3 linked regions of the Homo sapiens genome follow. The protein of the gene in region 3 interacts with the protein of the main gene of each other region in a biochemical or structural test. Each region holds a gene or a part of one and is shown on either strand. Other genes may lie near its edges. The genes, in order: ARF3, COPG1 and SCYL1.

Evidence for each region.
Region 1: the proteins of SCYL1 (region 3) and ARF3 form a complex in vitro, tested with the Homo sapiens proteins (one study listed by BioGRID).
Region 2: the proteins of SCYL1 (region 3) and COPG1 form a complex in vitro, tested with the Homo sapiens proteins (one study listed by BioGRID).

What each region holds. Positions count from the first base shown.
Region 1 is NC_000012.12:48,955,411-48,959,155, forward strand, and holds the start of ARF3 (ADP-ribosylation factor 3), read right to left. Parts: upstream 2,078-3,745; 5' UTR 1,900-2,077; exon of another isoform or gene 688-1,899; intron 351-687; exon of another isoform or gene 285-350; intron 1-284.
Region 2 is NC_000003.12:129,247,601-129,251,345, reverse strand, and holds the start of COPG1 (coatomer subunit gamma-1), read right to left. Parts: upstream 1,741-3,745; 5' UTR 1,637-1,740; coding exon 1,600-1,636; intron 665-1,599; coding exon 612-664; intron 1-611. UniProt on the Homo sapiens protein: The coatomer is a cytosolic protein complex that binds to dilysine motifs and reversibly associates with Golgi non-clathrin-coated vesicles, which further mediate biosynthetic protein transport from the ER, via the Golgi up to the trans Golgi network.
Region 3 is NC_000011.10:65,522,952-65,526,696, reverse strand, and holds the start of SCYL1 (N-terminal kinase-like protein), read right to left. Parts: upstream 1,615-3,745; 5' UTR 1,544-1,614; coding exon 1,433-1,543; intron 1,144-1,432; exon of another isoform or gene 1,124-1,143; coding exon 983-1,123; intron 777-982; coding exon 654-776; coding exon of another isoform or gene 649-653; intron 574-648; coding exon 347-573; intron 1-346. UniProt on the Homo sapiens protein: Regulates COPI-mediated retrograde protein traffic at the interface between the Golgi apparatus and the endoplasmic reticulum. Involved in the maintenance of the Golgi apparatus morphology.

The sequences.
Region 1 (3,745 bases), on a different chromosome or scaffold from region 3:
GGAAGCAGGAAATCTGGGACTGCAGATAATGACTCTGTGTTCTAGTAATATTTTTCTTTTTGGGTCTTAAGTTTCCATTATCTATGCCTATTCTGTGCCTCTTAGGAAGGCAGAGACACAAAAACTTCTTAATTACAAAGGCTAAGGGTCTTTGTACCCTTGCTAAGCTATTTCCAGGCACTTCTGCTGACAGCCAAGCCATCTCTTGCCCTTTCCTTAAACTACAGTTAGAAAGCTTGTTGAGTTCTATCTATTTACATTCTAAATTCATCATGGGTACCTACTGTTTGCATGGGCATTGTGGAAGAGGAGACGAAATCCAGTTCCTGCAGTCGAAAAGCGTCTAGTCTCTTTGGAAAAGCAAGATAGACAACTATAAAAATTCTAACTATGCAAGGTAATAATTCTATGCTGGGAAACAGGACGCATGTGAATATGTGATACATGGGAGCCTTTCCTGGCTGAATCCAAGGTCAATCATTCATTCGGTGAAAAGCTGAACCTTAATGGATTAGTTTCTTTCTTAGAATGAACTTTTACAGACATGTTTTTCAAACTCAAGTCCAATGGGCTATGATAATCCACTGTCCCATAACACTGTCCCATGTCCCAAGTCACGGCAAGTGGAAACACCTACCCCAACAACAAGCCCAAGACAAAATAGCAGCAAAGACTGTTACTACCTACCTGATTGAGGACAGGGAAGGAGGTATGCAGCGACTAGATTCTGTCCTGTTGCACTGACCCAAGCAATCAGACTCTTGCAGCAGATCTCCTCCCAATAAAACTTTCATGCCATAGACCAGGGGTGACCCAATCCAACAACAGCAGAGACAGGTTTTAGGTTACATTTCTCCCTCACCGGGACGGCCTTACTATTTCTTCTCACTCCTGACCACATACCACAATCCTCCACCTCCACCACCACATTCCTCCTGGCCTGGAAAGATGGAGACCCGCCTTAATGCAATCAAGACGGGAATTCCCCCAAAATAACAGCTACCACTTTGCTAATCAAGTGGCCCGTTTTAACAGGGAACTCCACCTCCCCAACTCCCGCCCCTTCCCTCAAACGATTCGCGTAAGCAATGGCTCCATTTTCTGTTCCGGGAATCCTGGTACTTCCTAAAGAAAGAAAGCGGATTGGAAGACACAAACTGAGGGCCAGTGACAAGATGCTCCCTCCTCCTGTGAGACCGCCCCCGCTCCGCCTGGGGAGGAAGGCCCCACCTCTCTTCTCCCAGGAAGATCAGATCCCCCTCCTCCTTCTCCTGCCTCCTCTCCACCCTCTCCCCACTTGCTGCCCTCTTCCCAACCTGCGGTTCCCTAGACTCGAAAGCGCAACCTCTACCACAATAGCGCCCATGTGGTGCCCCAGCAGCCTGCCCTGTTGGCTAACCCCCAACCCCCCTACGCACCCCTGCCCTATGATGGGGGAGGGGGTGTAACCACAGCAAGGCTTCTCTCCCGTCTCCTATTGCTAAGGTGGGGGAGGGAGAGGGAGTAGAAGAAAGCAGCATTCCCTAGCCCTTTAACAGAAAAGATACAAACAGCCATCACCGCCCCCTCATCACCTCTCCTCGGACGGTTTTCCTCTCCCTCAACAGCACACCTCCTGCAGGCGACAACCTAACTGCAGCCCAGGTCGCCCCCTTGAGCGAGGCGGAGGACAAATCCGTGTGCGCCCCCCACCCCCACCCCAGCTCTGCGTCCTTCAAATGCGGGGGCAGGCGTGAAGCTGGCCCGACGCACCCTCTCTGAGCTCTCGGGTGGGAAGAATCCCACCGCCCCACGCCAAGCAGTGCCGGGCGGGGCCCGGGAGGCGCTCTATCTCCTCAGCCCTCACCCTGACCGAGCCTCTTCTCTACCGGGACCCGCCTTCCCTTCCCAGCCTCTCACCTGTTCCTGCTATCAGCTGCGCCGCTGCGGCCGCCGCCTCTGCCCCGCAGGTTCCGCTCCGCTCCCTCTGGCTCCCCAAGCCGACTTCAGCCCGGCTGCTGCCCTGGCCCACTCCCCGGCTCCCTCCTTCCTTCCCTCCACCTAGCACCGGAAGCCGCGACGGCGACTGGAGCTGTGCGGCGTACCCCCACCCCCAGCCCGGGATACTTCCCACCTCCCCGATCGCGCGATAGCTGCGCGGTAGCTAGCGGCAGTTCTCGCGAGACCCATCACCATGGCAGCGGCTGCAGCACCGGCGGCCGGGCGCTGGAGCTGGAGTCAGGGCGGGGGCAGGTGTGGGGGCTGTGGGCGGCGGAGGCGGGAGCCGTGAATGGGGATGAGACAGTGAGGACTGAGGTGACAATCCCAAGCTCCAGGGTTGTGCCTGGAATTTAAGGACTGAGGCGGCAAGTTGGCTGCGTAGGAGACGGGCTGGGCTGCGGGGCCCAGGGGCTCCTTGGGCAAAGCCAGCATCGGGATATGGGTGAACAGTCGTTGCTGTGGCATGCCTTACCCAGCCAGACTTCATCTTTATTTCTTAATCTGGGCTAGCTGCCATCCCCTGAAAGCCCTCACCGCACCATTGTTGTTGCTCACTATTCCTGAGACTAGATTACTGTGGGGTCTGAATCAAGAGATCCTTTCCCATAAGGAAGAGGAAGGAGAGTGATGAACTTAAGAGGCTAAAGGAAAACAGCTGGACTCTGAGCCAGTTAAGTTGGAACTTGAAAGACGGAGAGTGGAAACCTAATATTCAGAAGTGTGGTTTGAGGAAGTGTGCCTAGATGAGTAGGGATTTTAGTATCCCAAGGAAAGGTGAAGGACTTTGCACCCATATTTCTTGCTTCCTACCCACTCCTACTTCCCTCACACTCCGTTTTGCACCTGGTCTAGACATGCAGAACTGCCTTGAAACAAAAATAGCTGTGATAGAAGGGCACTAGTAATGCTAAGAACAGAAGGTTCCTTTTTTTTTTTTTTTTTTTGAGACAAGAGTCTCACTCTGTCGCCCAGGCTGGAGTGCAATGGCACCATCTTGGCTCACTGCAACCTCTGCCTCCCGGGTTCAAGCGATTCTCCTGCCTCAGCCTCCTGAGTAGCTGGGATTACAGGCGTGAGCCACCGCGCCCGGCCAATAGAAGGTTCTCTAAGTGCCCTCTCTCCTCATTTACAGCAGTATAAGGGAATGAACACATGGCTCTTCCCTAAGGCTTGAGCCCAAATTGTTGCTCTTATGAATTTATTGCCTTGGTTGATTTTGTTTGTTTGTTTCCTTGCTTCCAAGAAGAACTAAGCTGGGGCCAGGCCCTGTGTTCACACTTGTAATCCCAGCACTTTGGCAGGCTGAAGTGGGCAGATCACTTAAGGTCAGGAGTTTGAGACCATCCTGGCCAATATGGTGAAACCCTGTCTCTACCAGAAAATACAAAAATTAGCCGGGCATGGTGGCACATACCTGTAATCCCAGCTACTTGAACTGAGGCCAGAGAATCGCTTGAACCTGGGAGGCGGAAGTTGCAGTGAGCCAAGATCGTACCACTGCACTCCAGCCTGGGCGACAGAGTAAGACTTTGTCTCAAAGAAAAAAAAAAAAAAAGCTGGTAGGTGCCATATATGTCGATCTCCTTGTCCTCATCAATCCCTGGTGTATGCACTTACAGTCCCTTAACCCAGTCTGTTCTCTCTCTTATGTTAACCTGATAACATGACCCTAGAATGTCAAGCTAAGGGGACCTTAATTTAAGATGGTAAGGGATGAGATGGATGACAAGGAACCTGTTTATAACAAGGAATTATATCTGTCCTG
Region 2 (3,745 bases), on a different chromosome or scaffold from region 3:
AGTCATGCAAAATCTCTACCTGCATAATGGCCACAGTCTAGCTTAGGTGATAGTTTTAAACCAGTTTCCTTAGCTTTGGAATTAACTTTAAATAGAGAAATTTTTTAAATGTTTAAATAGAGAGGCCAGGCGCGGTGGCTCAAGCCTGTAATCCCAGCACTTTGGGAGGCCGAGGCGGGTGGATCACGAGGTCAGGAGATCAAGACCGTCCTGGCTAACGCGGTGAAACCCCGTCTCTACTAAAAATACAAAAAATTAGCCGGGTGTGGTGGCGGGCGTCTGTAGTCCCAGCTACTTGGGAGGCTGAGGCAGGAGAATGGCGTGAACCTGGAAGGCGGAGCTTGCAGTGAGCCGAGATCACGCCACTGCACTCCAGCCTGAGCGACAGAGCAAGACTCTGTCTCAGAAAAAAAAAAAAAAAAAAAAAAAAAAAGAAGTAAGCATAACTAACTCTCTCCAGAAACAAAGTTTTCCTGTCTTCCAGAAAACTTCCAGGCACAAGTTTTCTCCCGTGTTGCTCTTTAAAACAACACTTTGAATGTGTTGGTATTTCAGTTGCATTGGTGGTGAATATTTATGATGGAAGCTAGAGGGGAGCAAATGTCACTTGCCTCCTGGAGTACCGCACTCTTCTCAAGGTGCTGGAATGGGTTGGAGCCTCCACCTACGGTCAAGGACAATGGAGAAGGTAGGTTGTGACTCTGAACTTCAAAACTCTCCCAGACATAGGTAAAGGGAAGATGTCCCTTCCTAGGAAATCTAGTAAAGTTCAAACTCCTCAGGAATGGCAATCAAGCCTCTACAATCTGTCTAGGGATCCTACTAGTCTCCTGCAAGCAGGTGGGCTCCACTCTACCCCAAACCACTCACAATCTCCCAGCAGCCCTGGTACAGTCCTGTGCTTCTCATGGTGCCATGTCTTGTGTTCATTTATATAACTTGTAATTAACTAAGTCCCTATGTGCCAGGGACCACCATCTCGTTGTAACTAGTTCCTTCATAGCAGATGACACATTTGCAAATAATTACACGTGTGATTATCTGGTTGATGTCTGCCTCCTCCATCGTGGGTGCAACCATTCTAATATTCCTAGCTCAGGCACTGAGTGTCCCACTTGCTCTGTTGCAGTATCCAGGACACCGTACAGTACCTGGCATACAGTAACTGCTCAATATACTTTGCTGAATAAATGAATGATGGGGTCAGAGTTCCCAGTCACAGGACGCTGGCTCCGCAGGTTACACCCCAGTTTGGCCAGCACCAACGTAGCCCCAGCGAATCCCAAGAGGTTGGACGAAGAAAGTAACAAGAGAACATTCGGCATGGTCCCCTCCTTTGACAGATGGGTAAATTGAGGCCTGGGGGGGGGGGTGTTTGTCGCGCCCAAGGTCACCCAGAAAATTGCAGTCCGAGCTTACAAGAGTGAGACAGCCGCGCATGCTCGGGCTCTCCGAGGCCTGCCACTGACTAGCTGTGGACCCTGGCACAAGCCCCTGCCCCTCACTGGGCCTCAGCCTCCGGGTCAGGACAGAGAACCAGAAGGAAAGCTCGGCGGGTGGGGGTCCGGCCTCCCTCAGACCCAGGCCTGGCCCCCTCACCTGACTCCTCATCCTTCTTGTCGAATTTCTTCAACATAGTGGAGTCGGTGGGGCGCAATGCAGCAACGCAATGCTCGACGGGCGCGGCACGGAGTAGCGGTGCCACAGTGGTTCTACAGGGACCACTTCCGGGCCCCGACTGGCCACGTCGCCCAGCGCTCTGCGCAGGCGCATTCCGCGCTCTGCGCCTGCGCTCTTTCCGGTAGCCACAGCCTCGTCTAATGTTAACCTTAGCTCCGCCGGAGCGGGAGTGGGGAAAGCCAGACGGAGGGGCAAGGGCTAGGTGCAGGGGGGTACTGACTAGCATCCCAACTCTGCTCCCTACGCTTCTTTCCGTATACCAAGGGAGGAGGAGGAGCCCCTGCCTCGTTGCGTTGTGGCGTGAGTCTTTGTGGCTTTCGGGTGTGAGGTTGGTGGCACACACTGGCCCGCAGTAAACACCCAATTGATGTGACCGGTCTATGACTGTTATTGCCACCTTCCGAAGGAGCCTTGCCAGCCACTCACTCCTCGCTTTCAGATTCTTTCCCCTGCCTGATTTCCTCCTCAGCTCGAATCGCCATCTAACACTTTATTTTTACTTTCTGGCTTTTATTTGTTTATTTATTTCTCGTTCTGCTGCCCAGGCTGTGGTGCAGTTGTGCGATCCTGGCTCACTGCAGCCTACAGTTCCTGGGCTCAAGCGATCCTCCCACCTCAGCCTCCCGAGTAGAGCTGGGCGCACCACCCCCGACTAATTTTTTAATTTTTGTAGAGACGAGGTCTCACTATGATGTTGCCCAGTCTGGTCTTGAACTCGTGGCCTCAAGCGATCCTCCTTTCTCGACCTTCCAAAGTGCTGGGATTACAGCGGTGAGCCACTGCACCCGGCCACTTTCTTGCTCTTTTGTTTTTTTTTTTGTTATTTGCTTGTTTGTTTGTCTTTTATTCACTGCAGTGGATAATGTTGGCACATAGTAGTTGCTCAGTGAGTTCTCGTTGAATGAATGCGTGCAATTGCATTTTTAATTTATATCTGCCGGGCCCTATCTCGTCTGCTCCTGATGCAAATTGCCTTGTACATTATCAACCTTAAGAGATCTAACTAAACAGCATAGAACTTCTACGTTATTTTGTAAATACTTTGGATATTTATGGAGTGCCAACTAGATGCGCTGCCTACGCGGGGAGGTGGGGGGAAGGGCGTGGGAAGGAACGGAAAGGGGAAAATGACACATCACCCAGGGTTTATCTTCCTGGGGACCTATGCAGGACACCCTGAGGCTAAGGTAAGCACAGTGCATGCCAGTGAGCCAGATTGCATTGGCAATGGCAAAGTCGTGATGGCCAAGCGCTGCGACACGGCCCCAGCTTGCCTGGGGAGGGGAAGCCCGCAGGCCTGTGGGCAGGAGAAGGAGTGGGCTGTGGAGAGGAGAGGCAGGAGGCTGAGGCAGAGGCCCCAGGTGAAAAGGGTGACCGCAAAGCTGGAGGAAGGGAGATGTCAGAGGGGCCAGCCCTTAGGGTCTGGCTTTGCAGAGGCTAGGGCCAAGGACAACAGATCTTGTGACATGCAAAATTGTCAAGAGTCAGAAAGATGTTCAAAATGTCTGATCGGTAACCCCACCCCTAATCAGGAGGAAATTGTTCAAAAGAAGAAAATGAGGCCGGGCGCAGTGTCTCAAGCCTGTAATCCCAGCACTTTGGAAGGCTGAGGCAGGTGGATCACCTGAGGTCAGGAGTTTGAGAGCAGCCTGACCAACATGGTGAAACCCCATCTCTACTAAATACAAAAAAAAAAAAAATTAGCCTGGCGTGGTGGTGCATACCTGTAATCCCAGCTACTCGGGAGGCTGAGGCAGGAGAATCGTTTGAACCTGGGAGGCGGAGGCTGCAGTGAGCTGAGATCACGCCGTTGCACTCCAGCCTGGAGTCTGGGCAACAAAAGCGAAACTGTCTCAAAAAAAAGAAAAAAGAAAATGAAGTTGCCTGCTGCAGCAGTTTGCAGCAAAATAATTGTAAACACCCTAAATGTCTATCAATAAAGGGATGATTAAGGAAGTTATGGTACATCTGAGGACTAAACTGATTTTTATCTTGTCTCAGCTACTCCAGGAGTCTGAGATGGGAGGATTGCTTAAGCCTGGGAGGTCAAGGCTGCAGTGAGCCA
Region 3 (3,745 bases):
TGCCAGGGCCTGGCTATGTCCCTCAGCTGAGCCATCAGTCCCAAGAGGCAGGTTTCATTAGCCTCACTTAACAGATTAAAAAAACCAAGCCTCAGAGAACTAGGCACATCTGTCCAGGTCACAGAGCTTTCAAGTTCAGAATCACCCAACCCCGAATGCTGTGTCCATCCCGCCCTACCGCCCTGAGGACCCTGGGGGCAGAGGAGTGTCCCTCACTCCTGGGACACTGATTCCCTCCCCAGCCAGGCAGCAGGGAACAGGGGAGTGCCAACTAGTCTAGGAGTCCTGAGGCTGCAGGGGCCTCCAGGACAGGGCAGGTTGGGGCGCGCTGCCCCCAGTCACCCACCACTTCTCTCTGACCACTCTGCCACTGCTGTCAGCCAACTCCGGGGGGTCATACTGCTCAAGCTCGGGGATCCCCTTGCGGGGAGGTCCCCCACCGTTGCCCTGGGCCGAATACATGTAGTCCAGGCCCCCAAGCTTCCACTCGCCAGCTCGGTCCACGAACACGGCGGCCATGCAGACATTGTTGTGGATGAGGCTGCAGTCGTTGACCAGGAAGCTGAGGGCTTTCTGGGGGCAAAAGGAGCCATCACGCCCCAGCACCTGCAACCCCCCATCCCTGCTCTCATCACCACTGCCCCCCACCTCACCACGATCTGGTGTAGCCCCCAGGAGATCTCCAGCTCCTTCAGGCCACCAGCCTCCACTCTCGCCTTGAGGTATATTCCCAACGGGGTCACAGCCTCTGTCACGACGTGGAGGCATTTTTCTGTCTGGGGAAGGGGACACAGGGTTATCAAGGGCGGAGGGGCAGAGAGGAAGGAGAGATAAGCGACTTGAAGTTGGGAGAGATGGGGAAGAGGAAACCAAATCTGGGGGTGCTGGGGCACATAGGGTGGAAACAGGGCAGGAGGGGAGACAGGAGTGGGTAACCAGGACATCGTGAGGGGCAGAGACGGGCAGGCAAGGCAGCAGGTACCTCCAGTCCATCGATGTAAGCCAGGATGTTGGGGTGCCGTAGAGTTTTGAAGCGCTTGAAGGCAGCTTTGGCCACCTGGGTCTGCTCTTCCGCGCCAGGCTTCACATCATAGACGAAGATGGACACGGGGCTGCCTGTGGCCTAGGGGAGGGCAGCGGGGCCTGAGATGGTCCCAGAGCTGTTGTGTGGCCGGAAGACAAGGGCCCGCAGCCAGGTCTCTCCCCAGGTCAGCCTTAGGGACACTTCGCCGGGCCCACGTGACCCCGGCCCTGTCCGCCTGTCGGTCCCTCGGTCCCTCCGCCCGCCACGTAGGCACTGCCCGCCCCCTCCCCGGCCTGCTACCCCTTGGTTCCGCCGCCACGTCAGGCCGGGCGCAACGCGACGGGGTCGGCGGCGCGGAATAGGCAAGGCCCAGGTCGACCGCGGCCTACGGAGCTCGGCCGCACTCACCTTCTTGCGGCCGCGGTGCAGGGCCCAGGGCCCGGGCAGGCCGCCCTCTGGGGGCTCCGGGATGAGCTCGAACGGAAAGTCCCGGACCGGGTCCCGGGCAAAGAACCACATCGTCCCCACCGCCGCCGCGGGTTCGGGCGCCTTAGCTCCGGGTCCTCCGGCCGCCCGAGCCGGGGCGGGGCGGAGAGGGGGCGGGGCCTGCGTCAGACGGGGGCGGGGCCCGGGGGCCAGGGCGGGGCCTACGTCGGGGCGGAGCAGGACGTGAATTGGGGCGGGGTGGGGCAGAACCTGAGTTGGGGCGGGAAGGGGCGGGGACAAGGGAGGGGCGGGAGAGGGGCGGGGATGGGGGGGCTAGGGAGGGGCGGGGATGGGGGGGCTAGGGAGGGGCGGGGATGGGGGGGCTAGGGAGGGGCGGGGCAGTCCGGGGCGGCGGGCGGTACTAAGATCAGTACTCCGCCGCCGGGTAAGTCACTTAAAACCCTCCAAGCCTGTGAGCCCTTTTATCTAAAGAGGCCTAAATCCTAAAGGATAATAGAGCCTGCCTTCTAGCGTACTGTAAGGATGAGAGCTTAAGAAGGGACAGAGGGATGGGGAAACCGAGGCAAAAAGGGGGAGAGGTAGAAAGACTGACAGGCATGAGAGGGTGCAGTGAGGAGTGAGGCAGAGACCCAGAGAGGGAGACTGGCCCCACGCCAGACACTCTCTCCCACCAGCAAGTGGGTGCCTCCAGGCTCCGGGGAGGAGTCGGTCCTGGTGAAGTGACCATGAGAGAAGCACGAGGAGACGCCCCAGAGAAAGAGCGTGGGTGAGAGGCAGAGAGTGAATCCAAGGTTCCAAGGAGGTCCAGAACCCCGGGGCAGGGGCGGGCACCCAGGGAATGGAGGAAGGAGAGACTGAGGAGGGAAGAAGAAGTGACCCCAGGAAAGGAGGGAGGGAGAAGGAGCAACTGGGCAGGTCTGGAAGAGGCCAAAGGGCTGGGAGGGGACCCTGCTCTCCTGGGCTCAGCTGCCCGGCTCTCAAGCCAACGGATTGCATCTCTCAGTGCCTGTGTAGACAGCCATGGAGTGGTGTTAGCTCAATCAGCACATCACACTGGTGGGGATCCAGCCCCTGAGCTGTGTAGGAGGGGCTGGACAGGCAGTGGTTCTTCTGCTGGTAGGGTCTCAGGACCCAGGCTTGGGGACAGTGCCTCAACCACAGCTATGGAGCACTGGTGAGATTCTGGGACTGGTTATGAAAAGTCTGGTTGGGATGCCTTTGGGAGATAACTCAAGGGCAGAGATGCCACAGTGAGACGGTGCTGGGTTTCAATCACGGTTCAGCCCCTCATTGGATGTGAGAACTCACACAGTTCCCTTTGGGTGCGTTAGGTCCCCCATCTATAAACTGGGGTGAGGGCCAGGCACAGTGGTTCACGCTTGTAATCTCAGCACTTTGGGAGGCCGAGGCTGGAGGATCACCTGAGGTCAGGAGTTCCAGGTCAGCCTGACCAACATGTTTGAAGGGGGCCTGCCCCTCCACACCTGTGGGTATTTCTCGTCAGGTGGAGACAAGAGACTGAGAAAAGAAATAAGACACAAAGTATAGAGAAAGAACAGTGGGCCCAGGGGACCGGCACACTCAGTATACGAGGACCTGCACCGGCGCTGGTCTCTCAGTTCCCTCAGTATTTACTGATTACTATTTTCACTATCTCTGCAAGGGGACTGCGGCAGAACAGGGTGATGGTGGGAAGAAGGTCAGCAGGAAAACATGTGAGTAAAGGAATCTGCATCATAAATAAGTTCAAGGGAAGGTACTGTGCCCGGATGTGCACGTAGGCTGGATTTATGTTTCTCTTTACCCAAACATCTCAGTGTAGCAAAGAGTAACAGAGCAGTATCACCGCTAGCATATCTCACCTCCAGCCATAGGGCAGTTTTCTCCTATCTCAGAATAGAATGACTGGTGGGCTTTACACCAAGACATTCCATTCCCAGGGACATACGGGAAACAGAGGCCTTCCTCTTATCTCAACCGCAAAGAGATCTTCCTCTTTTACTAATTCTCAGCACAGACCCTTTACGGGTGTCGGGCTGGGGGATGGTAAGGTCTTTCCCTTCCCACAAGGCCATATCAGGCTGTCTCAGTCGGGGAGACAATACCCAGGCTTTCTCGGGCAGAGGTCCCTGTGGCTTTGCACAGTGCATCATGTCCCTGGTTAATAGAGAATGGAGAATGGCGATGACTTTTACCAAGCATACTGCTTGCAAACATATAGTTAACAAGGCACATCCTGCACAGCCCTAAATCCCTTAAACCTTGATTCAATAC